Linked DNA regions of Homo sapiens: all the other regions are linked to region 1. The links come from fine-mapping of genetic effects on plasma protein levels. A gene starts in region 1. Each other region holds a variant in brackets. All regions are shown on one strand. Distances are between the middles of the regions.

Region 1 (8,272 bases):
ATACAAAATTAGCCAGGTGTGATGACACATGCCTGTAATCCCAGCTACTCGGGAGGCTGAGGCAGGAGAATCGCTTGAACCTGGGAGGCGGAGGTTGTGGTAAGCCGAGATTGCACCATTGCACTCCAGCCTGGGCAACAACAGCAAAACTCTGTCTCAAAAAAAAAAAAAAAAAAAAAAAAAGAATAAATGCTTGTTCCTCTAACCATTGAGTTTTGGGTGGTTTGTAACAAAGCATTATTATGGTAGTAGTTGACTAAGACCTTGGTTTTAGCAAGAACTTATGTAAATTTTCTTGAGGAAACATATGTTGAATTGACACAACTTATTAGAGTCTCTGTATTCAGAGTACTATCTTCAAAACCTGTTGGATTAGGAAGAAAAATGTGGTGGCATGTAGAAAATACCAAAAAGAAAATAAAAAAGGACAAAGATCCTCCTTTTGAGCTGTTTCTACCCATACATAATTAAAACTCCAGACTTCTGAGCATTTTCTTCAAGTTTTTGACATATTCAAGTACCAATACAGCTATTATTTGTTTAGTATATTTTAGTTGATTTAATAAAAATACAGAGGCTATGTATTTTAGTCTTCTTAGAGTCATATATCTATAAAAGAAAAATGTATATAAAAATGAAAATATTGGACCAGGTGCAGTGGCTCATGCCTGTAATCCCAACACTTTGGGAGGCCAAGGCCAAGAGATCGAGACCATCCTAGCAAACATGGTGAAACCCCGTCTCTACTAAAAATACAAAAATTAGCTGGACATGGTGGCGTGCACCTGCAGTCCCAGCTACTCGGGAGGCTGAGGCAGGAGAACCGCTTGAACCCAGGAGGCGGAGGTTGCAGTGAGCCAAGATCACGCCACTGCACTCCAGCCTGCTGACAGGGCGAGACTCAGTCTCAAAAAAATATATATATATATTATATATATTATATGTATAATATGTATTACATATATAATATATATAATATATATATAATATAAATATATATATAATATATATAATATAAATATAAATATATATATAATATATATAATATAAATATATATTTATATATATACACACACACACACACACACACACACACACACATATTGAAAGAGGTCCATCTACTTATCACTTAAATTATTTCAAAAGCCACTTTGTGGTATACTGAACTTACAAGCTACTCTTTCCCAAAGGAGCTCCCCAATTCTCAAGTATTGCTTCCTTTGAAAGAGCAATCAGTGCACCCCAAAACCTGCCCCCCATGATCTGTTTCTCCATCATCTTCTGGGCAAAGTCCTCAACATTGCTTGTGATGTCAAGGCTTACTTCGGTTCACTCAGAACTGGGTTTATTGTTCTTTAGGGGGTAGCTTCTTAGTGGCTATCACTGCAATCGAGTGATCTTAGAAGCAAATTGCCAGTCATGTGCACACTTGAGAGTGTCACAATAGACAGATTAATGTCCTGTCCTTGATTTTGATACCACATCCACTGTAGATGGCAGCTGATTATGGATAGAACATTGTGGCAAAGGCCATGATCTTCAGATGATGAAACTGGATGTTAGAGAGTTTGAGAATACTAGTCCCCAAAACTGTCACCTCACAAGGCCAAGCAGTGAAACATAGTTTAAAAAGAAGAGTTTAGATGAAGGAAGATGTTTACTATGAAGAAACTTCCAAAAAACAGATACTTAGTGACTGAGAGGCTCAATGGTTAAGGCTTTGGTTCAATTCTCGGTTCTGCTAATTATTAATTTTGTAACTTTGAGTAAGTTCACTGTACTTTCATATCTCTCTGACCGCTCATCTATAAAATGGGGAAAATAAAAGCTGTTATTTCCCTCAGAAAGTTGCTGTGAAGACTGAAGGAAAATGTACAAGCAAAACATTTAGCACATTCCTAGCACAAAGAAGGTGCTCCGTAAAAAGTGGTTATTTTTATTATTACCAATATTTTATTTTGATACTATTATGGCATGAAACAAAACCTCCTGGAATTAAAATAAACAGACAGGACAATTGAGGGCAAGAAGGAGGCAGCATCCGAAAAGATAAATGTGGTCCATGTGCCACAGCTGTTAACACACCTCTTCTCGGGGCTTAGATCTGAGTGAAGGCTGCTGCACTCCCGTGACTGGGTATGGCTGTGCTGGTGATGACTCACCATGGAGTAGGATATGGGTGATAAGAAGAAGTCCTGCTCCTGAGACAGCTCCCAGGATGGAGGTTGCTTGGCCTTCAGGAGGAGGCTGAGTAGGAATGGTGGACCTGGCAGCTGTGCTGCCCTATCCCTGTGGCTGGCTCAGCTTCTCTGACAGGGAGAGAACCTAAGTCCAGGCTGTGGTGGCTGTCCATAGGCAAATGTCACAGAGCACACTCCATCTTCAACTTTCTCTTATCAAATCTAAGTGGTCTCCATTATCATCTTCCTAGGGAAACATCAGCTCAGGGGCTTTGATTGATAGAAAAGGAGTGAGGAAGGGAATATGTGTGAAGGAAGCTAAAAGCCCATGGGGAGAGTATTGGACTTTCTGTGGAAGGGAAGTTTGAAGAGGAGGCACCATCAGGGTGTACCCACACAGACCAAACACCTCTAGAATCCTGAGTCAGCTTTTTCCCCTCACTCTGATTCCTACTCCCCCCTTAATCAAAATTCCATTGTTCGCTGGCATCACTATTCCCCTAGTCATGCAGAAATGCAACTTGGAGCTCCTCTGTGGCTCTATCATAAACCCCTCCTCCATTCAATCCATTGCCATGACTTTATTCCATACAATTTTTCTTTCTACGCACTTCCCTCCCCTCTGCCATCCCCTTGGGCCGGGCCCTCCCTTCATCACTCCTGCAACACCAAACTAACCACTCTGTTTCTTGTCTTTTATCCAATCAGTCCAGATCCCCAATACCACACCGGCGTTTCTTAGATATTATTGTATCTTGCCACACCTTTCCTCAAAAGCCTTATTTTTCCCAATGCTTTCTTTTCTAATGTATGAAGTTCTGACTTTTCTTTATGACTTTCATGATACCCGACCAGCTGGCCCCAGGGGGCACAATGGCTTTACTCCACTTCTCCACACCCACCCTCATCCTGGCAAGTGCACCATGGCCCTAGCACAGTGCTGATGGAATCTGGAAATATCGCCAGGGGATCATTTGCAAGACTAACCTAATAAATTACATTATTTTTTTCCTGGGATGAGGAAACAAGGACAGAGTTGAAACACCTTCCCCCAGAAATGTGCTTGCCTCTCTCAGACCACAGGTAAGGGCTTAATATGATGTGAGAAAGAGGATTTCTGGCTTGGAATGCAATTCATTTCTATTAACATTTAGAAAGCATCTTGGGTGGGCAGGAATGAAAACCAGACACTGTACATGCTATGACATAGTTTTCAATCACTAAGGAGATGAAGAGGCAAGCTATCAGTGTAACAGAAAGCAGAATGAAAGAAAGAGGGGCTCAGTAAAGCCTTATTCTTTTGTAGAAGGCATGAGATCCTATGAGGTAGGCATAGGCAAGTATTACCCTCATTTTCCAGATGACAAAACTTGCTTACCTGCCTCAGAGTTTAAGTGGCTTGTTTATTGTCACAGAGCTAATAATTAGCAGATTAGGGTCTCCTAGCTGGGTGATCTTTTGAATGCATGACTTTGCCAGCAGCCAGCAGAGCTATGAAACACCGAGAGAAACAATTAAGCATGCTTGGGAACAGTGTGAATGGGCATGGAGCTGGGAGGCCTCCTGGGAAAGGTGGCATTTGACCTGGGAATTGATGAATCCCAGAAAAGCCAATCAGAGAGGTGTGAAAACAAAATTAAAATGGAGACTGGGCCTGAAAAATTCCCAGGCAAACAAAGCCAAAGACCTTAAAAATAGCCATATTCTTGCTAAAACTACAAACATAAATTAAACTTAACTTGGGTCAATTTCTGATAAATGCTTACAACAAATAAAACTTAACCCCAGCCAATGATAAGCAGCCAACTAACATATGATTATGTGACTAGGGACTTTCCAAAAAGTTACCTAAAAAATGCAATTATGTAACTGCAAACTAAGCAAATAATGTTTCATTTTGCTTCTATAACTTCCCAATAAATGCTTGCCTCTGACATTTTGTCATCGCAACACTAAACCTTTGTCGGTCTGGTGCTCCCCAATTCATGAATTGCTTCTTACTTAAATAAACTCTTTAAAATTTTACTGTGCCTCATATTTTTTTTAATACAGAAGAAATGAGAGAAGGAAGAATATTTTAGAAATAAAGGAACTTCATGGGCAGAGTCACAGTGCAAGACAAAAGGAGCAGACCAAGGGCAAGATTGCTTGGGGAGTGAAGACTCCCTCCCTCTTCTCCCCTGAGAAGCTGAGATAAAGGGGGAGGAGAAGCCTGGGTGCCCCCCACTGATAAGCAGGCTCCACCCAGAGGCCAGTCCTGTGTGTCTGGGGACAAGGCGAAAGAGCAGCAGAAGTGCCCCTTCTCCAGGATCAAGGAACTGGGGCGGGGGGTGTTTCCTGGACCCCAGTCCTCCGAATCAGCTCCTAGAGTGGAACCAGGAAGGATTCTGGAGCCACAGAAGATAGACAGATGGTAAGTCCCCTTTTGGAGTCAGAGGCTTAGCGGGGAGGGGTGAGGGTGGCTGTGTGCAAAAGTCCTGCCCCCACTGGAGGGGAGGGAATGTAAGGCTTACAGAGTAGAAAGGTGGGGAGAGAGGGAGGTAATGGGAGAGGGATCGAGAAATGGCACATTCAGGGGACAGGTTCGTTCTGAAGCCCATCTGGGAACACTGCTCCGAGATAAAAATATGTGTGTGGGGGCAGGGCAGGCAGCGAGGGTATCAAAATGGCCTGATAAAACTCTCTTCAATGCACCATTTCCTGAACCAGCTTCTCTCTCCTCCTTCTCCCTCCACTCACTTCAGGAAGGTGGGGACCAAAGTGAGGAAGAGCCGAGGGAACGCAGCCAGGCAGGTGGAATGGGAACTCTCTGGAGCCAAGAGGTAAGTGGCCTCCTCTCCTGGGTCTGGAATACACTGATGTTGTCACTCTCGGCTCTAAAATCCCACAAACACTCATCTACTAACTGTCTGCTTCATCCTCACCCAAAACAGTTGACATTCCTTGTTTTCTCATCTCCCAGGAGTTAAAGTAGGGCTGGGTTTAGGAAGAATTGGGATAATTATTTCTGTATAAAGGGACTGTAGCACCAACAGATTCATTCTCTCTCCTCTTCTTCCCATCCCTGTCTCTCAACCCCCATCTTGTATCTTTCACCTCTTGGTTCCTCCCACAGAGCACTCCAGAAGAGAGGCTGCCCGTGGAAGGGAGCAGGCCATGGGCAGTGGCCAGGCGGGTGCTGACAGCTATCCTGATTTTGGGCCTGCTCCTTTGTTTTTCTGTGCTTTTGTTCTACAACTTCCAGAACTGTGGCCCTCGTAAGCAAGATCCCAGACCCCCTAACCTAGTCAGCCCTCCCCCAGCCCTGGGGCCCAGGCCCAGTCCCTGCTCCTGGGGCTTCTGCCCACCCTGACCCTTGGGGTCCCCATGGTTCTTCTTCCTCCCTGCATCCTAACCATTTCTTTTTCATCAGCTCCCCACTTAGTTACTCACCTGATGTTCTTTGCCTAGCCCCTTGGGGGAGCCCTTGTCTTTTTGCCTCTTCTTTCCCAGCTCTGAGCTTTTCCCCACAGGCCCCTGTGAGACATCTGTGTGTTTGGATCTCCGGGATCATTACCTGGCCTCTGGGAACACAAGTGTGGCCCCCTGCACCGACTTCTTCAGCTTTGCCTGTGGAAGGGCCAAAGAGACCAATAATTCTTTTCAGGAGCTTGCCACAAAGAACAAAAACCGACTTCGGAGAATACTGGGTGAGGAAAGCAGGGTGGAAGATGCTCTGTGCAAGTGGGTGACTCTGTGCCTAAAATGACCATGACTGCTCCAAACCCTGTGTAGTTGTGGAACAACTGATTTGCACCATCCCAGGTGGGATTATACGGGTGGATGATTGGAGATGATGGGGGAGTAAAAGAGGCAGGATGGCGGGAGCTGCCTGGGTTTGCTCATCTCTCACTGTTTCCTGTTGCCTTGCCTTGGGTACCCTTCTTCCGTTTCTCTTGGTCCCTTTCTGCATTTTTTTCTTTATCTAATTTCCATCTTCTTTGCTTCTCCATGTATCCATAATTACTCCATTCTCTCCAACTTGTCCCTTTTAGCAAGCTCCATCTTTGTTGCTTCCTCCAAATGTTCAGTTTCTATCCTATGCATGGTGTTTTCCTCCACAAGCATCTCTTCAGCATCTCCTGCATTTCAATTCTTTTGTCCATCACTCTCATTCTCTAACCTCCAAAACCTCAGTCTCCCAATGACTCCTTGTCAACATTACCCTCTCCCTCTCACCATGCCGGAGCTCCCCTCTCTCACAATGATCTCTTGCTTCTTGCTTCTCCATTGAAACCTTGAACCATGGCAAGCAAGTTGACCTGGAACAAGTGGGATGTTAGAGATGGATGATTGGAGATGATGGATGATGGTGGAATGAAAGGGGTAGGATGGTGGGGTGAGAAGTGAGAGAGGGCTTCATCACTGTGCATAAGAGAAAAAGTGGGTAAGTACAAAGGATATGCTGGAAGAAGAGGAGAGCTGAGTTAATTGGCAGTGGAAGTAAAGTTCCTGCAGATGGAGGCTGGAGAGGAAAACTGCCAGGACTGAGAGGAAAACCAGAAGGATGAGCTGAAACTGAGTAGGAGGTTGGAAGTGCGTCCCAGGAAGTTGGTGGATGGTGGTGAGGATTTGGGAATAAGAACATATAAGATAGACATGCATTTCCAGTGCAAGGGAACCTAAAGAATGTGTTGACACTATCAATTAGAATCTGGGAAAAGTAAATGCACCCCTCTGCCCTCTTTTTTTGATGGGGAAAGAGTGGGAGGGGGCCTCTCTTTGGGTAAATGGATACTTTCAGGGAAGGCACAGAGATAAAAAGAAAAAATATGCTCAGGATAAATTATATTGCCTACAATGGGATGAATAGATATCAGGGGGACTGAGGGTGAAAAGAGTGTTAGATATTAGAGGGTGGATGATTCAGAGAGACTTGCATTTGATTATTGTAGTGTGTTTGTTTCCTGGGATCAATGGATGAGGAGTCTGGACTAGAAGAGTCTTCCCCTGTTTCTTCTCTTTGCTAAACCTTTCCTTATGAGTTTTCTTCTCTCCAAATCCTTAAAGTTCTCTAGTTCCCTGAATTTGTCTAATTTCTTCAATCATTTCTTTTGTCTTTCATTTCTCTCTTTTCTCCTTTGCCCATATCCCACTTATTGCTACCTTTCTCCTTTCTTCCCTGTCTTTTCCTTCTTGGTTTCTTCCCCACATTTCTTTTATTTTCCATATTGTCTTCTTCTCCTCATTCTCTTTCCCTGCTTTCATCATTTCATCAAGTTGATCCATTCCAAATTGGGCAGTCCTCTCATCTTTCTTATTTTCCTCATCTCTATTCCTCCCCCTCCTTCCATATTCTGTGGGAGTCTTTCTTTCCTGTAAGCTCCCTGTCTCCCACCCTCCCTCTTTGCCTCTATACCAGTTGCCACTCCTTTAATTCTCCTGCCGACAAAAAGAGTCAAACTCTGTAAAATATTTGAAAAGATTTATTTTGAGCCAAATATGAGTGACCATGGCCCATGATACAGTCCTCAGGAGATCCTGAGAACATGTGCCCAAGGTGGCTGGGGCACAGCTTGGTTTTATACATTTTAGAGAGTCATGAGACATCAATCAAATACATTTAAGAAATACATTGGTTTGGTCCAGAAAGGTGGAACAACTCAAAGGGGTGGGGGTGGCTTCCAGGGTACAGGTGAATTTAAACATTTCCGGATTGACAGTTGCTTGAGTTTGTCTAAAGATCTGGGATAGATAGAAAGGGAATGTTCAGGGTAAGATAAAGATTGCGGAGACCGAAGTTCTTTTGAAGTCTTATAGTGGCTGCCCTTAGAGACAATAGGTGACAAATGTTTCCTATTCAGATCTTAGTTAATCAAAAGATCTAGCTATGTTAATGAGATATGTTAATAGCTAATAGAGATGCTTTACAGATGCAAATTTTCCTCCACAAAGAACAGCTTTGCAGGGCCATTTCAAAATGTGGCAAAGAAACATGTTTTGGGGTAAAATATTTTTGTTTTCTTCTTTGTCTCGTAATGTTATGCCAGAATCAGGTTAGAAAGTAAATCATGTTACATGGGTTAAATAAAACCCATCTGATGAGAACTTAT
Region 2 (8,272 bases), 1.0 Mb before region 1:
TAGCAGAATTAACTTTGAAAAAAGACCAAATAAAATGGATATGCTCATGTTATTTGATATCTTACATACCCTGTAGGAAGACTTATTAAATTTAAAAAATAGAATGCTAGAATTGCATGGTGTAAGAACAGATGAAATAACAAACAGGAATGAATAGAGAGTTCAAAGACAGACCCAGACATAGGTAAACTTAATACACACTAAAATTACTACAAATGAATGAGTAAAGAATTGATTGTCTAATAAATGGAACACTGGAAAACATAACACTGGATCTATATTTAACAAATATTTAAAAGTGAATGTCAGATATACTAAAGAAATATTATAGTAGGTAAAACTAAAAACCTAATTAAATAAAAAATATAGTATTTTGTGACCTACATGCAGGATTTTATTTTTTTAGAAAAACAAACTTCCAAAGCACAAATCACAGAATAAAAAAGTGATGCATTTGATTGCCTCAAAATGAAGACCTTCTGTTCAACAAAGGACTCTATGGATAAAGTGAACAGAGGGATTGCAGATTAGAAGTATGTATTTGCAGTAGGTATGACACAACAGGGCTAACACCTATAATATATCCATCAGTAAAGAAATGGCAAAAAACCCAAAGGAAAAATGGGCAAAGAAAATGAACATGCAGTGTACAACAATAAAAACCCAAATAGCTAACAGTTTGCTTCACTCGCTCAGAAAATATTTACTTTGTGCCTTCTATAAGACAGGCACTATTTTAGATATTTGGCATATACTAGTTTAAAAAACAAAGAGCCCTGCCTTCAAGGGGCTTATATATGGGGCAGTGAAGGGAAACCTATATTTAAAAATGCATACATTGCAAAGAATGCTAGAAAAGATAAGTTCTTTGGAAAATAAATCAAGGGGAGAAGGAGTGGGAGTATGGGTCAGGAAGGAAGTTTGTTGTAACAAATAGGTCAGTCATGTAAATCTCCTTGAAGAGATGATGGTTGAATGAAAAATTGACAGAGGTGAGGAAGTGGCTATCTAAGGAAAGAGCATCCCAGGAAAAGAGTCTAGATAGAAAACAGGCCCATCTCCACAGAAAGACTTTGGATTTTATTTTTAGTAAATGCAGGGTGTGAGCAGGGTAATGACATGGCCTGAGTTATATATATATATATATATATATATATATATATATATATATATATATATATATATACATACACACACACACACACACACACACACACACACATATACATACTCATATACATATATACATATATATACGTATATATATATACGTGTATATATATACGTATATATATATACGTGTATATATATACGTATATATATATACGTGTATATATACACGTATATATGTACACACACACACACACACACACACACACATATATATATATATATATATTTTTTTTTTTTTTGAGACGGAGCATCACTCTGTCGCCCAGGCTGGAGTGCAGTGCCGGGATCTTGGCTCACTGCAAGCTCCGCCTCCTAGGTTCACGCCATTTTCCTGCCTTAGCCTCCCAAGTAGCTGGGACTACAGGCACCGCCACCACGCCCGGCTAATTTTTTGTATTTTTTAGTAGAGACGGGGTTTCACCATGTTAGCCAGAATGGTCTCGATCTCCTGACCTCGTGATCCACCCGCCTCGGCCTCCCAAAGCTGAGTTATATTTTAAAGGGTTCCCTCTGACTGCTGGGACACAAGAGTGAAGCAGAGAAGTTTGTTCTACTGAAGTAACCCAAGTGGGAGATGGTGGTGTTTCACACCAGGGAGTGACTGCAGAGGTGAGAAGTGATCATATTCCGCACATATTTTGAAGGTAGGGGCAACAGGATATTTTTGCAGATTTGAGTCCCGTATGAGAAAAAGGAGTGGTGAATGGACTCATCACTGCAATGACGAAGTTACCATGAACTGAGACAAGGAAGGCATGAACAGAATGATACAGAGTGAGAATGGGTGCGAATCAGGAACTCAGCATGAGAAAAACATGAGAAAAAAACTCCGTGTCTGATTACTTTTCAGAGTAATGGAACATAAAACAATTTTATCTTTTAGCTAAAAAAAAAATCAAAACATGCCAAGTGTTGTTGAAGTTGTACATAAGGAAAGATTGTGCACTGAAGTAGGAGTATAGAGTTATAAAGCCATTCTGGGGATCACTATGACCTAGCAACTCGGTTCCTCTGTAAATACACCAAAGAAATTTTCACACAGGTCTTTAAGTGAGCCTGTGTCATGATATGAATCCCAAGGTGCTGGGGAATTGGATATTTAGCTACCGGGAATGAAAGCTAGAATATTGTGAACACCATGGATTCATAATTGCTCATTGTGAACAATTAGAAATTGTAGACTAGCAATATGTATGAATCTTTATAGTGTTGAGGCTGGGCGCAGTGGCTCACACCTGTAATCCCAGCACTTTGGGAGGCTGAGGCGGGAGGATTGTCTGAGCTCAGGAGTTCACAACCAGCCTGGGCAACACGGTGAAACCCCGTCTCTAGTAAAATACAAAAAATTAGCCGGGCAAGGCAGCATGCGCCTGTAGTCCCAGCTACTCAGGAGGTTGAGGGGGAGAATTGCTTGAACCCGGGAGGCAGAGGTTGCAGTGAGCTGAGATCACGCCACTGCACTCCAGCCTGGGCAATAGAGTGAGACTCCATCTCAAACAAACAAACAACAACAACAACAACAAAAAAAAAAAACCCAAAAAATATAGTGTTGAATGGAGAAAATGAATACATAGAATCAAACAGATAACAACATAATGCATTTTTTTAAAAATGCATAAATGCACTCTCAAACATATTTTATTGCATTAAACAAATTAGAATAGTTGGCCAAAAGACCAGGAAGAAATGGACATTACGAATAAGATAAAAGAGAATTAATGCAATATGCAGCATAACAATGTTTTGCTCAATGACTGACCTCATATACTATGGTGGTCCCATAAAATTATAATGGAGCTGAAAAGTTCTTATTGCCTAGTGACTTCACAGCTATTGGAACGTCATAGCAACACATTATCTTTTCTATGTTTAGATATATTTGGAAACACAAATATTTACCACTGTGTTAAAATTGCCTACGGTATTCAGTACACTATCATGCTGTACAGGTTTGTAAACTAGGAGAACAGGCTATACCATCTAGCCTAGGTGTGTAGTAGACTACACCATCTAGGTTTGTGTACCTACACTCTATGGTGTTTGCCTAATGACAAAATCGCCTAATGACACATTTCTCCTAGCATGTCTCTGTTGTTAAGCAATATATGACTGTAATAAATTTTCAAAAATTAGTAAGAGGGCCCTCGTGTTATTCCATATACTGAGGAGTATTATTAACCAATTATCTCTGCACTGGAGATTTTAAAAAGCCTTATTTTCTAATATCCTAAATTCTAACATGTATGATCTTTACATACTTCATAAAAGGCAACTCTTAAAATAGCAAAGAACATGTCCATCAATAAATTATACAATGAGCATGAATTTAACAGCATTGTTAGGCACTGTGACGACAAGGAGCATCCTCCTTGCTCTCAAGAAGCTTACAGTCTAACTTCCCAAGACAGCACTGCCCTTTTTGCCCACTGCGAAAGCAGGTTTTCTTCTTTTGAAAAGTAGGGGATCAAAACAGCTTTATTTTTGAAAATTTACACAATTTTTAGCCGAGTCATTGATGACAGTAATCTATAGAATTCAAAATTTCCATTGAAAAGCAATATGTATAAATAAATTAGATTAAGTCCAAGATTTCACACACACAAATATCTTGTAGGTCTAGAATCATTTTCTCCATCAATACATATGACTTGTAGAAAAATACATTCTCTTTTTATAGAGATTTATCTGTTTTCTCCCAACCCTTGATGGATGAACACATGCAGTGAAAGAAGGGAGACAGGATGCAGGTGCAAATGGGGAGGGAAGAGCAGCTGGACCATAACAGGCTCCGCACAGGAAGAGTTTGGATTTTGTTCTAAGAAGGAGATGTAGCCTAATTTATTTTCTAAGATAAAGGTGTCAGCAACAGGTACTGGAGAGGATATGGAGAAATAGGAACACTTTTACACTGTTGGTGGGACTGTAAACTAGTTCAACCATTGTGGAAGTCAGTGTGGCAATTCCTCAGGGATCTAGAACTGAAATACCATTTGACCCAGCCATCCC[A/G]TTACTGGGTATATATCCAAAGGACTATAAATCATGCTGCTATAAAGACACATGCACACGTATGTTTATTGAGGCACTATTCACAATAGCAAAGACTTAGAACCAACCCAAATGTCCAACAATGATAGACTGGATTAAGGAAATGTGGCACATATACACCATGGAATACTATGCAGCCATAAAAAATGATGAGTTCATGTCCTTTGTAGAGACATGGATGAAATCGGAAATCATCATTCTCCGTAAACTATCGCAAGGACAAAAAACCAAACACCGCATGTTCTCACTCATAGGTGGGAATTGAACAATGAGAACACATGGACACAGGAAGGGGAACATCACACTCTGGGGACTGTTGTGGGGTGGGAGGAGGGGGGAGGGATAGCATTAGGGGATATACCTAATGCTAAATGATGAGTTAATGGGTGCAGCACACCAGCATGGCACATGTATACATATGTAACTAACCTGCACATTGTGCACATGTACCCTAAAACTTAAAGTATAATAAAAAAAAAGAATAACAAAGTAAAAAAAAAATTCACTTTTAAATATTTAACAGACTACAGGATAATTGACCTAATTAAACTAAAGAGCTTCTGCACAGCAAAAGCTGAAAGAGCATAGCAATTATTTGTATTCATAGCTTATGTTAATGTAAAATCTTTGAAAATAAAAGTACAAAAATGAGGGGTAGCAAATAGTAGCACACTAAGGTTCCTGTGTGAATATGGAATATCCTGTGAATATGGAATATCCTGTGAATATGCTATTGTACATGACAAAAGGGCCTTGCAGATGCATTTAAATGAAGGATTTTTAAATGGGGGTATTGTCCTGGACCATCTGGGTGGCCCTAATGTAATCACAAGTTTCTTGTAAAGAACAAGGCAAGAGGATCAGGGTCAGAAGAAAGATATGTGATGACAGAGGATCATTTCTCTGTCATCATATGGAGGACAGAATGGAGTGGAGGATCAGAGTCACAGAAAGGTTTGCTGTGCTGTTGGCCTTGTGGAAGGAGGAGCCAGGAACCAAGGAGTGGAAGTCACCTCAGAAAGCAGAAAGCAAGAAATGGAATGTTCCCCAGAGTCTCCAGGGAGAAACGCAGCTCTGTCAACAGCTTGATTTTGCCCTAGTAGAACCCGTATCAGACTCTGACCTTTGTAATGTTAAGATAATAATTTTGTAATGTTTTGAGTCACAAAGTTTGTGGGACTTTGTAAGATAAGGTGGAACTTGTGGAATTCCTACTTTTACAACAGGAAGAAGAAACTAAAATAGGCTCACGTTCACCAAATATGGGACAGTTTGAACATCAATAAAGACAATAACTGCTGTGGATTAAGACACATCAAATAAATGCACATCAGTGAGTTCATAACTATAATGAAAAAAACCTCACCTCATTTGTTGTATTAAAAAGTGGCAACGAAAGGGGAAAAATTAAAAAATTTATTCTGCCTTTCTCATACCAACTATACCTCAGGAGGATGAAAGAGTGATGAGGTGGAAGTTTCTCTCTATAAATGTATTTTAGATAATAAAGAGAAAAGGATGATAGACTCTCACCACCTTGAAACCCCTAAAAAATTAATAGAGCTAGGTCAGTACTTCTCTATCAGGGGCAATATTGGCATTGCCTAGTTGGGAGGGAGTACTAGGGCCATCTAGTAGGTAGATGTTAGGAATGTTGACCATGCACAAAATAGCCCCCATAACAAATAATTATTCAGCCCAAAATGTCAATAGATATTTGGCACTTTTGAAAACTCCTGACCTATGCAATATAATAGTTGTAATAATCCCCAGAAAAAAAGGAACATTGTGTTTCTTGCTACAAACATTGTGTGCTTCTTGCTAGAAGTACATGTGACCATCTATGAAATACCATTGTCATAAAAAAAAATAAACCTGATGAAACCTCTGGATTAAACAGGAGATACAGAAATAAAATAACATGTAAAATTACACTATAGGGATGTCATCAAAAAATCTAGACTGTATGAGAAATCCAACAGGAACAAATGATACAGTTTTATTTAAAAAATAATTCCAACAGTAAAAAAGTAGAATTTATAGGTTACTAATTTACTATAAATTTATTAATTGATAGAGTAAAAGAATTCTCAGAGGCATAGTAGACAATTGGAATATATGGGTCTTATTTAGATTCTTATTTGAACAAACTGTAATTTTTATATGTATTAGATTTTTAAGGAAAACCTTCAGTGGTGTTTTTATGGTTATTAACTAATGAAAAATATTTTATTTTCAAATACTTTTCAGTGTCTTTTTAAATTTTTTCTATTTAATGGCTAAATAAACAATAAAGTTTAGAATAGCATCTTATTTTGTATTCCTGTATCAAGACAATGTTCATGCCTTCTATTGGGAATGTCCTTCACAAGCAGCTATGAATTAGAAGTGTGTGTAGTCTTAAGGTGATCCAACTAATTTAATTTATGAAGATTAAAGTTACCGAGAAAGTGCAGCCTTGAAATTAAAAACTCTATCAAATAAAAAAGATAAAAATTGAAATTTAATAGATGGAATATATGATGGTTAATATTGACCATCAACTTGATTGGATTGAAGGTTACAAAGTATTGTTCCTGGGTGTGTCTATGGAGGTGATGCCAAAGGAGATTAACATCTGAGTCAGTGGACTAGGAGAGGCAGGCCCATCCTCAATCTGGGTAGGCACCATCTAATCAGCTGCCAGCATGGCTAGGATAAAAGCAGGCAGAGGAACATGGAAGGACTAGATTGCCTGAGTCTTCTGGCCTCTATCTTTCTCCTGTGCTGGATGCTTCCTGACCTTAAACATCAGACTCCACTCCAATTTCTTCAGCTTTCGGACTCTTGGACCTACACCAGTGGTTGACCAGGGGCTCTCGGGCCTTTGGCCACAGACTGAGGGCTGCACTGTTGGCTTCCCTACTTTTGAGGTTTTGGAACTCCAACTGGCTTCTGTGCTCCTCAGCTTACAGAAGGCCTATTGTGGTACTTTACCTTTTGATCGTGTGAGTCAATACTCCTTAATAAACTCCTTTTCATATATTCATCTATCCTATTAGTCTTGTCTCTCTAAAGAAACCTGACTAATACAGAATATGAGACTATAGTAGTCTATTTCTACATACCTAATGCCCACTCTCAGCATTTCTGCTTCCTGAGATATCAAGACTTGGATAACCCTTCCAGGAAGAACCCCAACATGCTTAGGAGTTGTTTGAAGGCAAAGGATTGTGTGATGGTTGATGGAGAAATGTCACGAACACCGTGACCACACGACCGCTGGCAGAAATGAAGATATAGCATCTTCACGTATTTTCCTCCTTGATGTATTATGTGTATGTTTGTATTTTTGATTACTTTCTTCTTATCTCTTTCCCATACCATTTCATATAGAGCATGTTCACGATGGTGAATTTTCCAGTTTACTACACAATTTACAGAATGTTCAGACAGCATCCTCACATTTTAGAAGAGGAATGATATTCAGATGGCATTTCCAATCTGGGAGATGAAGTGTTTTAGCTGACATCACTTTTAAATGACACCACTTTACTTGTCTCCTTCCAATTGCATCTAACTTAATTCAGATGTCTCGAATGTCTCAAGAGTATTACTGAAGCAGACCCAGCAGACAGGCTGGTCATCTTGCCTCTAATCTTTTCTTCCACTATCTCATTTGCCAGAGTGATACTTTTAAAATGTAATTGTTTTCAATCTATACTCCTTCTAAAAATTTTTGACGGACTATTGTTTTCTATTAGAATAAAGTTAAAAGATACTTAGACATTCGACGCCTTCCAGGATCTGACCGTGTCTAACCCGTCTGCTTCGTCCTCACTACTCTCTCACTCTTCTCTGCCCTGAAATTGAACTTCCAACATTTTTTGGACTTTCATGCTTGCTCACATCTCTACAACTTTGTACAGGTTGTTTCTTTTTTGGGTTTCTTGTCTTCTGGATAACTTGTTCTTACATTTCTGGTCTCAATCCAAGGGTCCTTTTATAGGAAGCCTTCTGCAATCATTTCCAGTGGGCTCCCCTTCACTGTAACACTTACCACAATGCATTATCA
Region 3 (8,272 bases), 720 kb after region 1:
TAAAAGCTTAAATTCTCAGAATTTTTTTAATTTTAAAAATTATTTAAAAAAATTTTTATGCATACATAGTAGGTATATACATGTATGGGGTACATGAGATGTTTTGATACAGGCATGGAATGTGAAATAAGCACATCAAGCATTTGGGCAACATGATGAAGCCCCGTCTCTACAAAAAATACAAAAATTAACTAGGCATAGTGATGCACACCTATAATCCCAGCTATTCAGGAGGCTGAGGCAGGAAGGTCGCCTGAGCCTGGGAGGTCAAGGCTGCAGTGAGCTGTGATTATGCCACTGCAATCCAGCCTAGGTGACAGAGTGAGACCTTGTCTCAGAAAAAAAAAAAAAAGCCTTTATACTTTGGGTTACAAACAATCCAATCACATTCTTTAAGTTCAGTCATAAAAAAGAATGAGATTTACCTATTTTTCAACATTGATAAGGGGCCTCATTTTTCAGAAAGCTTGGAAACCAATCATCTGGGAAATTCAACTTAAAAGGCCCTGTATCCACCATCTCTCCAACCGCAGCATTTTACAGAGAGCAAGAAGGAGGCACAGAGGGGTTTAGAAACTGAACTTCACTATTTCAAGACCTGGGACTGCACTGCCCTCAGGTCGGTGACCCTCTTGTGGTGTCTTCCCTGTCACAGGCACTTGATAAATGCAGAAGGGAAGCAGGGCCAGCCCCAGCCCCATCTCCCTAGAGAGCCTCACACAGGTGTAGCAATGGCCTGGCTTCCTGGGGTGGAAGCCAGATAAGGATCCAGGAGAAGAGACCCTCTGAGTCTGCAGTCACTGCTCCCAGCTCTTTATTGAGGACCTTGCCTCTGTGCTGAGGACAGTGCTCTGTCCAGCAGGACAGATTGCAGGATAAGGGATCCTGGGCCCGTCTCAATTTACAAGACTGGCTATCCTGTCTCCCTACTGCCCCCTCCCTTAATCCTTAAGTGAGATTGGGATCAGAATGTCTCCACGCACCTGTTATCTCTCTCTCTCTGGTGTTACTGCTCCTCAAGGTCAGTGCCTCCCAGGCTCCGACCTCTCCTCTTCTCTTGGCTCAGCTCTGGTCCTGGGCCAAGATAAGCCTCTTGCTTCCAGATGGCTGCCGAGCTCCCTGCCTTCTCTGTCAGGCCTAGAGTTAGGGGCTGTGGCTGCCCCCTTGAGGCATTTGTTTTCTCCCTCACCACACCCCAATTACTACTCAAGTGCTCACAGCAGCAGCAAACAACCTTAGCTGGGTCCTCACCAGCTTTGATGAGCTCAGTAGCCAAAAAAAAAAAAAAAAAAAGACTATGCCTGCAATGAGAAGCTGTAAGCAGATCGTGCCGGCATCTGTACATCTACTCCTGAGCTGAATTCCTCTGTGGAGAGGTGAGGCCCAGTCTGTGTGGGAGAGGCCCTCAGGGTCCATGTCCTCTCCATTGTCAAGTGGAGAGCCAGCAACCAGGGGTCAGATGAGGTGACTTCTAGCTCTAGGTCAGCTGTGTCAGTCACCAGGGGGAAAATACTGTGGAGTTAGAGTCAGACTTTGGTTTCTTCCCTAAGAAGCAGCCAACAAATGTCACTAAATTCTTCCACCAGGACAAGCCATGTGGAAATGCATGGCAGGGGTCTGGTACCTGTAGGGTGTCTGTGACCTAAGGAAATTATGGTCAGGGACCATGACCCACCATTGACTCAACGGGGCATCAAGCACCACTCTTGTTACCCTTTGGAGCTCCCATTTCATCATCTAGAAATTAAGGAGATAGAAATTTTTGGAAAACTAAGTGGCTCTAAAGTTCTTTTCTATTCTGGTGTTCTAATATTCTAACCTTCCTTCTGTGTTGCTTCCATTGTTTGCATAATACTAATGTGCTCAATCGGGCAAGCTCAGCCTGCCATGCAGCCATTAAATTAATTTCTCTGAAAGGTAATTGATGGCCGGAAGGGAAAGCACAAAGCATCCCAAAGGCAAACTCATGTTTATTTCTCATCTTCTTCCCCTCACCTCCTCTCTCTTCCTGCTCCTCCCTAGGAGTGTGCAGAAAACCAAAGCTGCCCGACTCAACCATCTGAGAAGCTGATATCCCTCCTCTCAGTGTCCTTCTAGGGATTAGTAGCAAAGCCTCCTCTAGCAGATGGAAATTGCAGCCTTCCCTCCGGTCCCTGCCAGCTACTTCCCTCCTTCCTGCACTGCACTGGGAAATTGAAAGACTAGGTTTACAAGCAGTCCCACATCCTTGCTAGTACCGAAGTTCTATACATAGACAAAATGGGAAATGCCCACAAAAAGTGGGGTGGGGGCATAGTCCAGAGGCAGAATGTCCTGTAAAGACATCCAGGATAGAAGATGGAAGAGGTGGGCAGGAAGGGAGGGGGAGAAAAAGAAACTAAACTTTCTTGATTCTGCAGGGTCCCCACTGGCAGGACGCTGGCATGGGGTCAGGGTGGAAAGTCTAAATGATTCAATCCTAAGAATTTTCTGCCAGGCCCCTGCTTCAGAGTGAAAGCAACCTGCCCTGTATCCTCTCTGGGCACCTCTCACCTCCAGAGTTATGTAAGGGGCATCGCTCTGAACCCGGAGGATAATCAGATCAGAAGTGCCCCAGCCTGGCCCTCCCCCATGGCATGGTGCCTGGCCCAGGTAGGACATAAAACTCTGAAGCTCTCGAATGTTCATCTGCAAGGGAGATGCTCCAGGTCCCAGGAGCCATGGCCCATGACCTTCTCTTCAGGCTTTTTCCACTTTTGGCCCTGGGAGTCCCCTTACAAAGCAACCGCCTTGGCCCCACATCTCGCCTGCGCTATTCCAGGTTCCTAGATCCTTCTAATGTCATTTTCCTGCGTTGGGACTTTGACCTTGAGGCTGAAATCATCAGTTTTGAGCTCCAGGTCCGTACAGCTGGCTGGGTGGGCTTCGGTGTCACAAATCGCTACACCAACGTGGGAAGTGATCTGGTTGTTGGAGGAGTCTTGCCTAATGGCAATGTCTATTTCTCGGTAAGTGTGAGGGTGACTTGCTTCCAAGGATGAGGGTCTTTGTTGGGTTGAGGATGGTTTCTGTCCAGAAAGGATTCACATTCCCCGAGGATATCTAAACACACTCCCAGAATGCCAGCTGAATGCTGGTGTGTCCCTCCAGAAATGGTCCATTGTAGAGTTTGAAATCTATGTCTTCCAGACTGCAAGTCTCTAAGACTGCTGAGAGAATGAAACCATTAGATTGTGAGATAGTCTTGCACCACTTACTTGCTAAAGCCCACTAAATGCAGGTCACTAGGGAAAATTCAAAGCTGTCTGAGAAATAGTTACATGAAGAGCCACATGAGAGAATGAATGTCATACATACTTCAGATAATATGTGAGACTTCAAGTATTAGGGATGCAGGAATATTAGACTTTATGGACATGAGATTTGAAATGGGAGAAGTAAAGCAAGGACAGGTGGTGAAACTCCATTATCCATAAAAGTGTGCTCTGCCATGTTCTTCATGCCATGCTTTGCCCAAGGAGAAAAACTACATAATAAAGAACACCTGGGCTCTGCTACTGTAGTATCCTAGGGGAGCTAAAGGAACAGCTACTGCTCCAAAGCATGACATTTGAAGCTCCTAGTTCTTACTTCTTGACCTTCACTGGACCCAAGGATCAGCACTTGGTGGACGAAGACACTCTGAAGGAGGA[T/C]GGGAGCCAGGATGCTGAGCTGCTGCGGCTGACGGAAGATGCTGTCTACACCACCATGCACTTTTCCAGGCCCTTCCGCTCCTGCGACCCTCATGACCTGGATATTACGGTAAAATAGAGAGCAGAGAAAAGCATTTAATCACAAGCAGGTTTTCCTTCTGGAGAGGTAGTTGCCCCCAGTCAGGCAGCTAGTCATCATTCCCAGGACTTCTATTCCTCTCAGCCTTCCCAGGAAATGCTCCAATTGTGCCACCTGCTGAAATCCACAAGCCTTCCGCAGGGTGACCTCCCACTGATTCACCTCCTGCCCACCTGCCCCAGGGTTTTCCTTTTGAAGAATTCTGCCCAGTTTCGCTGACCTTTAGAGTGTTAGGATATAAGAGTTTAATTCAGTCCTTTCATTTTACAGATGTGGACACAAGCTTAGAGAGGGCATGCGAGAGGGAGTGTGACTTGCTCAAGATCACCAGCAAGTGAGCCTCGGAGGCAGAAATAGAACTTAACTAGTTCTCACTCCCAGTGTGAAGCTCCTTCCATTCCACCATGTAGACATGAGCAAGTGCCTTGTGTAGGTCCTTGGGTGCAGGGATATGCAGAGTGCTGCTCAGGGGTGGCAGCTCCTCAATGCTTATGGCACCCCGCAGAGCAACACCGTGAGGGTGCTGGCCACCTATGGCCTGGATGACACTCTGAAGCTGTATCGGGAGCGTACTTTTGTCAAGTCCATCTTTCTGCTACAAGTCGTCCACCCTGACGATCTGGATGTCCCTGAGGACACCATCATCCATGACTTGGAGATCACTAATGTAAGACACCTTCATCCCACCCAGCAGCCTCCAGCTCCCTTCTCCTCACCCCACTCAACCCAGATCCCTTCTCTTGCCCCCAGTATTCAGTACATCCCTTGGGTGGAGATTACTCTGACTCTTCTCTGTCTCCTAAGGACTGCCAATCTGACCCTAATGTGAACCCCCTTCCCTGGCCTGGCCCTTGCCCTACTTTTTCAGAGCCTCACTGTCATCTGGCTCAGCTTCTGTGCACCCTTCCACAGTTCCTCATTCCAGAGGATGACACCACGTATGCCTGCACCTTTCTTCCTCTCCCTATTGTGAGCGAGAAGCATCACATTTACAAGGTATGGTGGACCAGATGGGGGACATTGTCAAGGCAGGGAAGGGTGCTGGAGCAGAGCAGGGGGTGTGGTCAACCCTGGAGGATGAGGTCTGGAAAATTTCTTGGAGGAAGCAAGAAGGAAGTAGTTGCAAGAACAGGGGGACAGGCAGGGCTTGGTAGAGGTCGCGGCTACATCATTTCCTGAGCCCAGAAATGTAACTCCCAGCGCTATTTTATTTAAGCCCCACAATGCAACAGACATGTTGATGAAGGTTAAGAATTAATAATTGTTTGCAAAGAACAAAGTATGAGCCTCAACCTGGCCCCAGAATTGTGCTCTCTTAGCCCAAGAGGAGGTAAAGGCAGGGAGAGGATATGGCCAGGGGCTGTCAGGAGGTTGAAGAAGTCTAGCTAGAATGAACTCAAACTTGGTAACCCAATTTCATATTTGAGTGATTTCAATTTTGATCAAATAAATAAAGGTATGATCTCACAATATGTGGCAAATGTGGAGACTTTCTTTCTTTAGACAGATAATTTGAAAAGGCATGGCTACATGCTCAGATACAGTGAACTGAGGAGGTTACTAAGGGAAGGCAGAATGTCCCTGGCTAGATTTCATGTCTGCTCTCCAGAAGGGGCTTAAAGGAGAGGGGAGTTGAGAGGAGAGTCAAACTGAGTGGGTGGGAAAATGGTAGCTTGGGGAACAAAAACAGAGAAAAAGGGAGAGAGAGAAACAGAGAGAAGAGGGAAATGGGTATAGTTTTGACAGGAAGGAAGATAATATGGATTTGATGTAGAAGGTCTTGATCATGCTCTGCTCTCCTTTTCTGCCCAGTTTGAGCCTAAGTTGGTCTACCACAATGAGACAACGGTGCATCACATCCTGGTGTACGCCTGCGGCAATGCTAGCGTTCTCCCCACAGGCATCAGCGACTGCTATGGGGCCGACCCTGCCTTCTCCCTTTGCTCACAGGTCATCGTGGGCTGGGCTGTCGGGGGCACAGTGAGTCCCGTGATGGGGTAAACACATGGCTAAGCGGGTGCATGTGGTTGGGTAATGAGATCACTGGGCTGGTGGAAGACCAGGGGATAGGGGAAGTCTGGGATGACAATTAGAAAACAAGGCCAGGAGCCCTGAATCCCTATGGCTGGTTCCCAGCCCTTCTTGCTGCCAAATCTAACTCCTTCCAACAGAGCTACCAGTTTCCAGATGACGTAGGAGTCTCTATTGGGACCCCCTTGGACCTTCAGTGGATCCGACTGGAGATTCATTACAGCAATTTTAACAACCTTCCTGGTGAGCATCCAGAGGATTTAAGGAAGGGAAGCTGGTGGGGCTGGCTGTTTTTTTCGGTATTGGGAACGCATTGTGGGATGTGTGCTGACTCCCTGTTGTCAAAGCCCCACCCCAGCTTTCCTGAGCCTCTTTCTCTCCACATTGTGACCCACTCTCCTGCCTCCTGTGATTGACTGTTCCTCTCTGCACCAGGTGTGTATGATTCCTCGGGGATTTGCGTGTACTACACTTCTCAGCTGCGCAAATACGACACGGATGTCCTCCAGCTGGGCTTCTTCACGTTTCCCATCCACTTCATCCCCCCGGGCGCTGAGTCCTTCATGTCCTATGGGCTGTGTAGGACGGAGAAGTTTGAGGAGGTGGAGCTGGGAGGCGCACCCTTCCTGAGGAGGAAACACACTCTCCTTACCCCCCATCCCAGATCTGGTCAGATCCACAAGCCCACACAGCCTGAACCCCAGACTTGGAGAATAATTACAGCCTGGTGCTCAGGAGATTCACTAACATGAGTTTTGCAAGGAAGGGAAGGAGTCAGGGCTTTGAGAACAAGGGAAGTGCAGAAGGAAGAAGGGTCAGAAAGGTTCAATAAGAATTACAGTGGTAAATGTCAGTCATCAGAGGAAAGTGTCAAATACCAAGGGGGGGAAATCAAGCAGCAGGTCAAGAACACAGTCCTTAACAAATCGGGTGCACCTCTTCCCTGTTACAGATGAATGGAGCTCCTATGCCTGACATACAGGTGTATGGCTACCTGCTGCACACCCACTTGGCTGGACGGGCTCTGCAAGCAGTGCAATACAGGTGAGGGAAGACCTTGAAGCTCTCCCTTCTGCAGGTGGGAATGAATTTTAAGAATAGTGATTTATTCTGTAGCATACGATTATGTCCGGTTGAGAAAAAGGAAGAGGTAGAACTATCTTTAGAGTAGAAATAACTGAAATAAGACTGTGGAAGATGAAGTTTTTTGTTTATTTTTATGGATAATCTACTCACAGAATGACCCCACCCGCATGCTACATCTTTATTGGCAGACCCCTCTGTATTTCATCTTCTCTTTATTTCTGAATTCCCGACTTCTCTTCCTCTAGGAATGGAACACAACTTCGAAAAATCTGTAAAGACGATTCCTATGACTTCAACCTGCAGGAGACTCGAGATTTGCCCTCTAGAGTGGAGATCAAGCCGGTGAGAGTCTGAGGGAGGCCAGGCAGAGTTGGGGGCAGCAGCATCATACCTCATTACTGACAACCAAGAAAGTTCTCAAGCTGTACCAGTCCCTCTGTGTCTTACTCTCAGCCTTCATGTTTCACTCTGAACAGGGAGATGAATTGCTGGTAGAATGTCACTACCAGACACTGGACCGTGACTCCATGACATTTGTAAGTGACCTCTCACCCCACCATGGTCACCATGACCATAGCCCCAGTGGAGAGCCCACTCATGGCTTTGGCTACCCAGTGACCCCTGTGATTTCACTGAAGCCCCTTCCTTCCTCCAATGGCATCACACATCCACACGGGGCTTTTCATGTTCTCACACCCCATGCATCTAAGATAGGAACAGGGATTTCTCACATTATCTGCCAATAACCCACCAAGACCATGGAAATATAGTATGCTATAGCGACTAAGAGCAGAGATTCTGGGGCCTCATTGCCTGGGTTTGAATATCAGCACAATCATTTAGTACATTTCTAACTTTAGACAAGTTATTTGACTTTTTTGTATCTCAGTTTCCCAATTCACATAAGATTAATACTACTTTCTACCTCACAAGATTGTTGTGGGAGTTGGTTAACACATGCAAAACACCTAGATCATTGCCTGACTTGTAGTAGATTCTCAATTAAAGTTGGCTATTGTTTCTATGATCACAAGAAAATCCCCCGTTTTGTGCATCAGGAGTGGTTCAGTGCTTGTGGGATTCAAAAGGTGTTGCAGGCAACTGAGGAAAAAATACCGCCCTACAAATGATTATATCACAAGTTAGTAAGTGATATATACCATACAAGAAGAACGGGAATAACCCACTAGGGAAATTCACAGGAAAGAATCATGAGATCCTACTACAGTGAACTGAACATGTGACGTAGGTGAATGAGTCCTTCTTTAGACACATAGAGATGGGGAATTCTGGAGAAGGAAAAAACTGAGAAAGCCATATATAAGGAGAGCGTGGGGTGCACATG
Region 4 (8,272 bases), 680 kb after region 1:
TGTTGAATCTGGTCTCTGTATTCAAGAAGCTTAAAATATTGAAACAACAGTGCAAAATACATATGTTTGTGGATAATTAAATTTCACTTGTTGGAGGAAGTTCACAGTGAGCAAAAGTGATCAGGGTAGAAGATATAAAGACACAGGACTTGCTCTCAACTTCTGGGTAATATTAAGGAAGAAGGAGAGAGAAGGAAAAGATAGCCCAGATTAAGGAGGCGCTTATCCTGACCTTTCCAAGAATTTGGAGTTAATAATTGAAACTAATCGTGTGCTCTTAAAGAGGCTGCAGGTGTCAGAGCCTGCACCTTCTCCACACTAAAGGGCTAGTGATATAAAGCCAAAGGGAAAAGCAATTTTCTTTCTCATGAATAAAAGCTATGGGCTGTGTTTTACGATATTTTTGCCATGGATATCTCTCTGGTGTAAAGTAACATGTCATTTCATCATGAATATAATAGAAAAATGATGAGTTTTCCTTTTATACTACTAAATTTTATAAGACTAAAACTTAATACTAAATTTTCTCAAGTTAGGCAGGTATAAATTCAATTCATCTGTCTACACACCTGCTAACTTCTTTCCTAAAACTATTAAAAATATCTGAACAATGGGGCTCATAAAATATAATCACAAACTTTTGGAGCTACAAGATATAAAGTGGGCTAGACTTTAAAAGCTGAATAAATTCGTAAGTGTTGGAAAGATAATTGGGATAAGAGGAAAGGCTGAAGAGGGTCATCCTATAATGCTCTGTAAAATGATTTTAATAAAAATTCTAGACTGGAATCAAGAAGAGAAATTAGGAGAGCAAAAATATAAATCTCTAATTTCCTTCCAGACGAGAAAATTCTCAGGTGCCTTAGTTTTTTTTTGTTTTTTTATGAGACAGAGTCTCGCCCTGTCGCCCAGGCCGGAGTGCAGTGGTGCCATCTTGGCTCACTGCAAGCTCCGCCTCCCAGGTTCATGCCATGCTCCGCCTCAGCCTCCCGAGTAGCTGGGACTACAGGCGCCCGCCACCACGCCCAGCTAATTTTTTGTATTTTTAGTAGAGACGGGGTTTCACCGTGTTAGCCAGGATGGTCTCGATCTCCTGACCTCGTGATCCGCCTGCCTCGGCCTCCCAAAGTGCTGGGATTACAGGCATAAGCCACCGCAACCAGCCTCAGGTGCCTTTTTAAAGCTTCCTTTCTGTTACTGTATGGGGCTCTCTCTCCCATACCAACATCCTACCAACGACCACAAACCAACATCAGCATGACTACTGAAAAGCATTACACCTAATTGTATGGCTGCGGAGCAGAGTTCTGTGAAAAAAGTTTCCTTGTGTCTTCAGGAAGTGATATTCAGGACATTTACTGTGTCAAGAGTTTCTGATCTTTGAGTGTGTGTGTGCGCGCGCTCGTGTGTGTGTGTGTCTGAATAGTACATATATTAAAAAAAGAATGCATTTATCAAAGTTAAAGCATAAATTAAAAAATAGATAGTTATAATGTTATAAGTGGGGTACAATTTAAAGGTATGGGATAATAAATTTCCCCCCCAAATTACCTTAAAGCCACCATTTCCTGATTATGTGAGACAAGAGAACGTTCTGCTCTTTTGGTAAATCTGAGAAAACTTTTCATGATATTGTAGAAACTTTAAGATGAATCTGTTTAACTGATAGTTCCCAACTTTCCTCTGTCAGCCACTTTCCCCACTAGTGATGATGATGACAAGATCGTTGGGGGGCTACACCTGTCAGACGAATGCTGTCCCCTATCAGGGTCCCTGAATGCTGGCTATCACTTCTGTGGTGGCTCCCTCATCAATAACAAATGGGAGGTGTCCACGGCTCACTGCTATAAGTCGTAATTCATTGATACTCATTTTCTTATGCACTAAGATTAATTAATCCTCTATCCCTGACAAAACACAATCCAGAGTAAACTGCAGAGTTGTGCTTGAGGGTGAGGCATTCAGACCTCCAGAGACTTCTTATTTTCTCAGGCATTATCTGATGTATAAAGGGGGGTTTGCATGGAGAGGTACCCTTCAGGGTTCCCTGATGTCTTCCCAAATGATGGTATTCAAGATATGGAAGGGAAATAGTGAGTGATGAACTATCCCTAGAAATAGCTTATGACATGAATCAGTACATAGTGCTAATTACTGTAGCTCAGCCAGTATAAACTGTATATGGAAGTAATAAAATACAGAGAATTTACAGTGCAACATTAAAAATATGCATGATTCATTCTGTTCCCTTAACATTCTGCCATTTCTCTGACTCCTGCTTCATTCCCTGTGATAACTGGTGATCCCAACCAGAGAGAAATGGCAAATGCTGATCAATCTCCACCAACTTCCTTTTTATCTCCAACTGTTTTATTCAAGTCCTTGAGTTCTCATTCCCATTCCTTACTATTCTAACAAGATGGCGGGCAGTGAGTCTGCACTTGCAGTGACACTTCTCTAAGGAAAACTCTAACCTGTACCATGTGGTGGTGCAGAATGCTACCTTAAGTGCACAATTACTGTATGACCGATTGCTTGAAAAGGATGGTGTCTGTGTTTATGCTCATAAATGGGGGGTCAGGAGGAGTGGAAATAACTCAAGCTAGATACTTAGGAACCTCTTATATCTTTTAATCCAGCCAAATCCATGTGCATCTTGGAGAATACAACATTAAGGTCTATGAAGGCAATGAACAATTCATAAATGCAGCCAAGATTATTTGCCACCCCAAGTATAACTCAGCCACCATTGATAATGACATCATGCTGATTAAGCTGAGCTCAGTCGCCACCATCAACTCTCAAGTGGCCACCATCTCTCTGCCAAGATCCTGTGCAGCGGCTGGTACTCAGTGCCTCATCTCTGGCTGGGACAACACCCTGAGCAGTGGCTTTAGTGTCGCCTGAAACAGAAGTACCAAGTGTGACAATTTTAGAGCTGAAAGACATGTGGAAAGTCAGCTAGTCCAAACTCACTTAAGGTTAAGTTCCCAGAGCATAGTTTTTGGATACATGGAATCTCAGAAATATACTATTAATAATTGAAATGAAGAAGATTCCTTTGCTGGAACCATGCAGAAGACATAATAATGAAGTACTATGAAGATATCAGGGTATTTAACTGAAGTGTGATTAGTGATGGGCAGAGAACTATAAACTGAGGAGGTAAACAAAACAAAGACTCAGGGATTTGGTCTTGCTTGGAGCATTCAATTGGAATGAATTGGAACAATTCATTGATTAGAACTATTTGGGAAAGCTTCTAGAAAAGAAAGTATTGCTCTCTCAAATGAGAAGCCGTTGGCTAATTGAAAGAAAAAGTGAGAGTATTGGGGAAGA[G/A]GGGAGATGTATTGAGAAAGAAAATTTTGGAAACCTCATGAGTAATCTTGCATTTTTCACTCTTCCACTCCACGGCCAACTACCCTGATCTCCTGCAGTGTCTGAAGGCTCCCATTCTCTCTAACACTGCTTGCCGCACAGCCTACCCAGGCAAGATTACTACAAACATGATATGTCTGGGATTCCTGGAGGGTTGAAAGGACTCTTGCCAGGTTAGTTTCTTTGTACTGCTTCTCAATTCCAGCTTATTCTTAGTCTTCTCCACCATAATTCCCCTTTTCAGAAACACAGAAGATTGTAAAACTGTCCCTATAACTGATTGTGAGAGGTGAGGGATAGCCTTGGGACAAATTAAATATTTTATTTTTATTGTATTAATGTCTAGGTTTAAGAGTTAAAAGATGCACAGAAGATGGTGTGCAAATAGTATTTCTAAGTGCCCTTCTGAGGAGGTAAACTGTGGAAAGGAACTCTAGTGGAAGGAGCAGAGCTAGTTAAGCAGCATGAAACCTCCTCTTGGCCCACTTGGCCTACCAAGGAAAGAGAAGGGGCTCAAATAAGGTATAAGGAAGACTAACTACTGATATAGTAAGTAGATTGAGGGTTGGAGGGTTTCAAGAGGAAGAGAAAGTGCTTCATGCTGGATCAGCAGTGTGGGACAATGGCTCCAGCACAATGGAAGAACATCTTACGGCCCATTCTCCCATCTGGGCATAAATAAGATCTCTGAATATCCCTTCCTTTTTGCCCAGGGTGACTCTGGTGTTCCTGTGGTCTGCAACGGAGAACTCCAGGGCATTGTCTCCTGGGGCTATGGTTGTCCTCAGAAGAACAAACCTGGAGTCTACACTAAAGTTTGCAACTACGTGAAATGGATTCAGCAGACCATTGCTGCCAACTAAACACCTTTATCTCTTCATGTTCCATATCCTATTCATCAACTTTACCTTCTTTCTATGCCAAAACACAGTATCTAAATAAAAATATACTGTCTTGTACCACGTCTTTTCAAGAATGGTCCCTGTCGGCATTGATTAACTTTCTCTTGAAACTAGCTGTTAAGAAGGTGGACATAGGGCCAAACTATTATATTGAGAAAATGTGAAAGGTTATTGATGTGGTTTGGCTGTGTGTCCCCACCCAAGTCTCATGTCGAATTGTAATTCCCAGTATTGGAGGTGGGGCCTGGTGGGAGGTGATTGAATTGTGGGGGCAGGCTTCCCCCTTGCTGTTCTTGTGATAGAGTTCTCCCAAAACCAGCTTGTTTCAAGTGGGTTGCACCCCCCTAATCCTGCCATCCACATGAAGATGTGTTTGCTTTCCCTTCTACCATGATTATAAGTTTCCTGAGGCCTCCCAAGAAGCAGAAGCCTGTACAGCCTGCAGAATCATGAGCTGCCTAAACTTCTTTTCTTTATAAATTACTCAGTTGCAGGCATGTCTTTATAGCAGTGTGAGAATGGACTAATGCAGTTATTTAGTCATTAATTCAACCTAATCAATATAAGTTTACTGATCACCAACTATATGCCAAACTCTATGTGATACATTGAGAATAAAAAGGTGAACAAGCTTAGAGGTCACTGTTACCACCACATTTTGTTTTTTTACAAAATCAAGAACTCTAAAAATATGTCAGATAAATTTTGTTTTAAGATTTGGCCACAGTATGTATTTTAACTTGCATTTCTGGGGCCAGGTGTGGTGGCTCATGCCTGTAATCCAAACTCCTTGAGAAGCCAGGTTGAGAGGATCACTTGAGGTCAGGATTTTGAGATCAGCCTGGGCAACAGTTAAGAGATCAGCCTGGACAACACTGCCTCTACAAAAAATTAAAAAATTATCTGGGCATGGTGGTGCATGCCTGTAGTTCCAGCTACTTGAAAGACTAAGGTGAGAAGATTACTTGAGCCCAGGAGTTTGAGGCTGCAGTGAGCTTTGATTGTGCCACTGCACTTCAGCCTAGGAGACACAAGTCCCTATCTCTAAAAATAAAAATCAATTAATTGAAAACATGAACTTTTATGGTAGATCATGCATTCATACCTTACAAGATATAATGACACTAAAATGCAGAAAATTAAACTTAATTGCCCAAAATCATTCAAAAGATTCACAGTAAAGCTAAGATAAAGCCCAAGTGGGCATTCCCAGTGGATTGCTGCTGATAGAACAGAATGGTCTTTCTTTCCTTTTTCTTCAATCTATCTGAAACTCTGGGAAGCTAGGTAGCAGAAACCTGTAGATGCAGAAATATTTAAAATTCACAGGTTTCCTGTGTTTTCCAAGGTTTCACCTACCTGTATATTCCTTTCCTCCAAGATCTTTCTTGTTTTCCAACTAGAAATTTGCTATAGCAGGCCTGGTCTCTGGAGACAATCTGTGTCCCTTTTTCACCACAAGTTCCCCCAAATCCCAGCCCACATGATGTACTAATTTAAACTACAAACAGAAACAAAAAGGTACAAATTCAGATAAGTTTGCAGAAAATAGATATTGTGCCTTGAGGTCATAAATGGCTACAGATATATTATCTATTCTCTTCAGTCCTGTTTGAAGAGTGCATCACAGACTCTGGCTTTAGTTCTTCCACGAGTCGTCCCTCAAATCTTCATTGTTCTGTGTGGCATTGAAAGGAGGGCTTGGAGCAGAAGACCCTGCACGTGACTCTCATGGTTATCTGGAATGAGACAAAGGAAAAGACACACTGGGATCAGAAAACAGAACGGTACAGGTGGAGGCAGTTGGAAATGGGAGTTTATTTGTGGTTCAGTGATAAGGTGAAGGAAGGGTACTGTCTTAGGCAGCTCAGTCAGCTATAACAAAAATATCGCAGACTGGGTGGCTTGCACAACAGACACTTATTTCTTGCAGTGGAGCCTGTGAAGTCCAAGATCAAGACACCAGGTAGTCTGGTGTCTGGTGAGGATAGCTTCCACGTTTCCTAATGGCCATCTTCTAGTTGCATCCACTCATGGCCAAGAGAGCCAGTTCTAGTCCTTTTTCTCTTCTTACAAATTGGTACATTAATCCCATCATGGGGGCCACCCTCTAGACCTTATCTAAACCTAATTACCTCCCAAAGACTCCACCTCAACACCATCCCATTGGAGGTTAAATTTTTAATATACGAATTTGGGAAGTGGGGCACAAACATGCAGTCCATAATAAATATTTCAGAGGAGGAGAGTACTGAAAGGTATACGTGCCCATTAGCAATTTTCTATCCTTTTGTAAGTATGGATGGCATGTTTGTAGAGAAAAGCTGAGCTCTTAATACTGCCTTATCACTGCCCCTAAAATGCAGCCAAAATTTCTTAGCCTTGCATTCAACATTCTCAAATATTTGATCACAACTAACCTTTTCTGTCTTATTTCCTTTGTTCTCATTGAATTGTTTTTATGTTTGTGTATAATCTAAATTAATTTCATATATAGCTCTCTTTGTGTAAATAGGTAGCCTTATATCTACCCCAACTAAAACATCTTGGGCTTCCGCCTTGAACAAAATGAGATTAAGTTTTCCCTGTTCCCTCTGAAATACTTTTCTGCTCCACTTAATTACCACCATCAATACCTACCTATTCAGCTTCCCACCCCAGATAGAGGGAAGGTTCCAAGACTTAACAGGAAGTGTGAGATACACAGAAGATGAGAGATCAGGGCAGGTCCAGAGAAAAGAAAAAGGCAAACAAATTATTAATCCTTTATGTTATCCAATAGTGTTTGTTTAGTACTTATTCTTGCCAGTTTCAGTCTCTTATTTTGTTTAATGCTTTACAATTTGTGAATTTTTATTAAACTGTATATGTCATATGCCATTTTAAACAACAACTTAGCTTTTATAAATTCACCCTAATAAAATAAGCGTTTAAGTTAAAAAAAAAAAGGTATAAATGTGAACACATCTCTTAGGAAGTTGCAAGGAACAGAATATCTGACTAATAAAGTCTTTAAAAAATTCACAAATGGAAGCTTAGGAGTAGGGAGGGCTTCAAGAATATTTATATAAGAACATTTGTCTTAATAAGATAAATTGCTAAATTTATCTCTATAAATAAATTATCTCTTTTCCCCTATAAATCTTATTTAATTTATTATTTTGCTGTAACACCACTATTTATCTTTCATGGAAAGTGACTTTAGTTTTGAAATCAAATTTTAAAATGTCTTTAAAAAATAAAATATTTTCTATCTTCATATTATTTAGTCTCACTTTTAAAAGTCAATTTAAAATGTCAATTTGTTGATGGGGCACAAATACAAAAGTCTTAGTCCTAGAGATACTCATTTATTCTGACTAGCTCAGTCTAACCACTTTCTATTTGTATGCCATCTAAACTATAGGATTTCCAGACATCTTGAAGAAATCATAGTTTTCAATAATTTCTTAGTTTCTCCATTTTTTTAACAAGCTCCCTACTTCTACAGAATAAATCAATTCATTTTCTCCTTTACTAACTGATCTCATCTTCTCACTGCAAGGCACAAATCCCTTCATCAAAACTTACCCGAGAGTTATATAAGCGCTCTAACATGACCTCAACAGTCTACTGTGATTTTATGTACACAGTCCCCATGCAAAGCCTTCATTACTTAACAGAGTTTATTTTTAAGGACACGTCCGTGTGCATAATCCAACTTCATTTTTTAAATGACTTTCCTATTTTTGTGGTCCATTTCTATTTGCAGTGTTCTTAGCCCTTGCCAGCTCTGCCTCTGAGACTCTTATTAGACTTGGAGGGACCCATGCAGTGAAAGGCCACAGGTTTCCTCCAAGGCCAGCTTCTGGCTCAAAGATCTGATAGCAGTAGAGTACACTGTTTTCCAAACAGAAAATATAAGGCCATATGTTCTGAAGAACTGTTGGAAAGTTAGTTTTGTCTTCATTCGTAAGGGGAACTTTCACAGTTCACACAACTTTGTGTTGTGG

Alleles and levels. Alleles are on the strand shown, and positions count from the first base shown. The strength of an association depends on the size of the effect and on how common the allele is.
With allele G in place of A in region 2, the plasma level of the protein whose gene starts at base 4,434 in region 1 is higher (weak association).
In carriers of allele T in region 3, the plasma level of the protein whose gene starts at base 4,434 in region 1 tends to be lower than with C alone (weak association).
In carriers of allele A in region 4, the plasma level of the protein whose gene starts at base 4,434 in region 1 tends to be lower than with G alone (weak association).

What was found. PIP is the posterior inclusion probability: the model's chance that the variant is causal. Protein levels are from antibody-based Olink assays in UK Biobank. Linkage for the fine-mapping came from a reference panel and not from the study's own genotypes, which makes the PIPs less certain.
Region 2: its variant is fine-mapped to the plasma level of the KEL protein (UK Biobank, PIP above 0.99).
Region 3: its variant is fine-mapped to the plasma level of the KEL protein (UK Biobank, PIP 0.91).
Region 4: its variant is fine-mapped to the plasma level of the KEL protein (UK Biobank, PIP 0.95).

The regions. Positions count from the first base shown.
Region 1 is chr7:142,958,525-142,966,796 of GRCh38, reverse strand. KEL (Kell metallo-endopeptidase (Kell blood group)) reads left to right here and starts at 4,434. Exons shown (of 19, transcript NM_000420.3): 1 at 4,434-4,593; 2 at 4,925-5,002; 3 at 5,296-5,437; 4 at 5,693-5,869. The coding sequence starts at 4,591. RefSeq lists a cis regulatory region at 1,951-2,352 and a silencer at 4,475-4,670.
Region 2 is chr7:143,962,474-143,970,745 of GRCh38, reverse strand. OR2F1 (olfactory receptor family 2 subfamily F member 1) reads right to left here. Exons shown (of 3, transcript NM_012369.3): 3 at 6,386-8,272. Among named protein-coding and RNA genes, the nearest start is that of OR2F1, 12 kb to the right of the region's middle. The variant A/G (reference allele first, on the strand shown) is at 4,180.
Region 3 is chr7:142,241,495-142,249,766 of GRCh38, reverse strand. It overlaps the pseudogene MOXD2P. Among named protein-coding and RNA genes, the nearest start is that of PRSS58, 12 kb to the left of the region's middle. RefSeq lists an enhancer at 3,024-4,223. The variant T/C (reference allele first, on the strand shown) is at 3,672.
Region 4 is chr7:142,283,217-142,291,488 of GRCh38, reverse strand. It overlaps the pseudogene PRSS3P3. Among named protein-coding and RNA genes, the nearest start is that of PRSS58, 29 kb to the right of the region's middle. The variant G/A (reference allele first, on the strand shown) is at 3,340.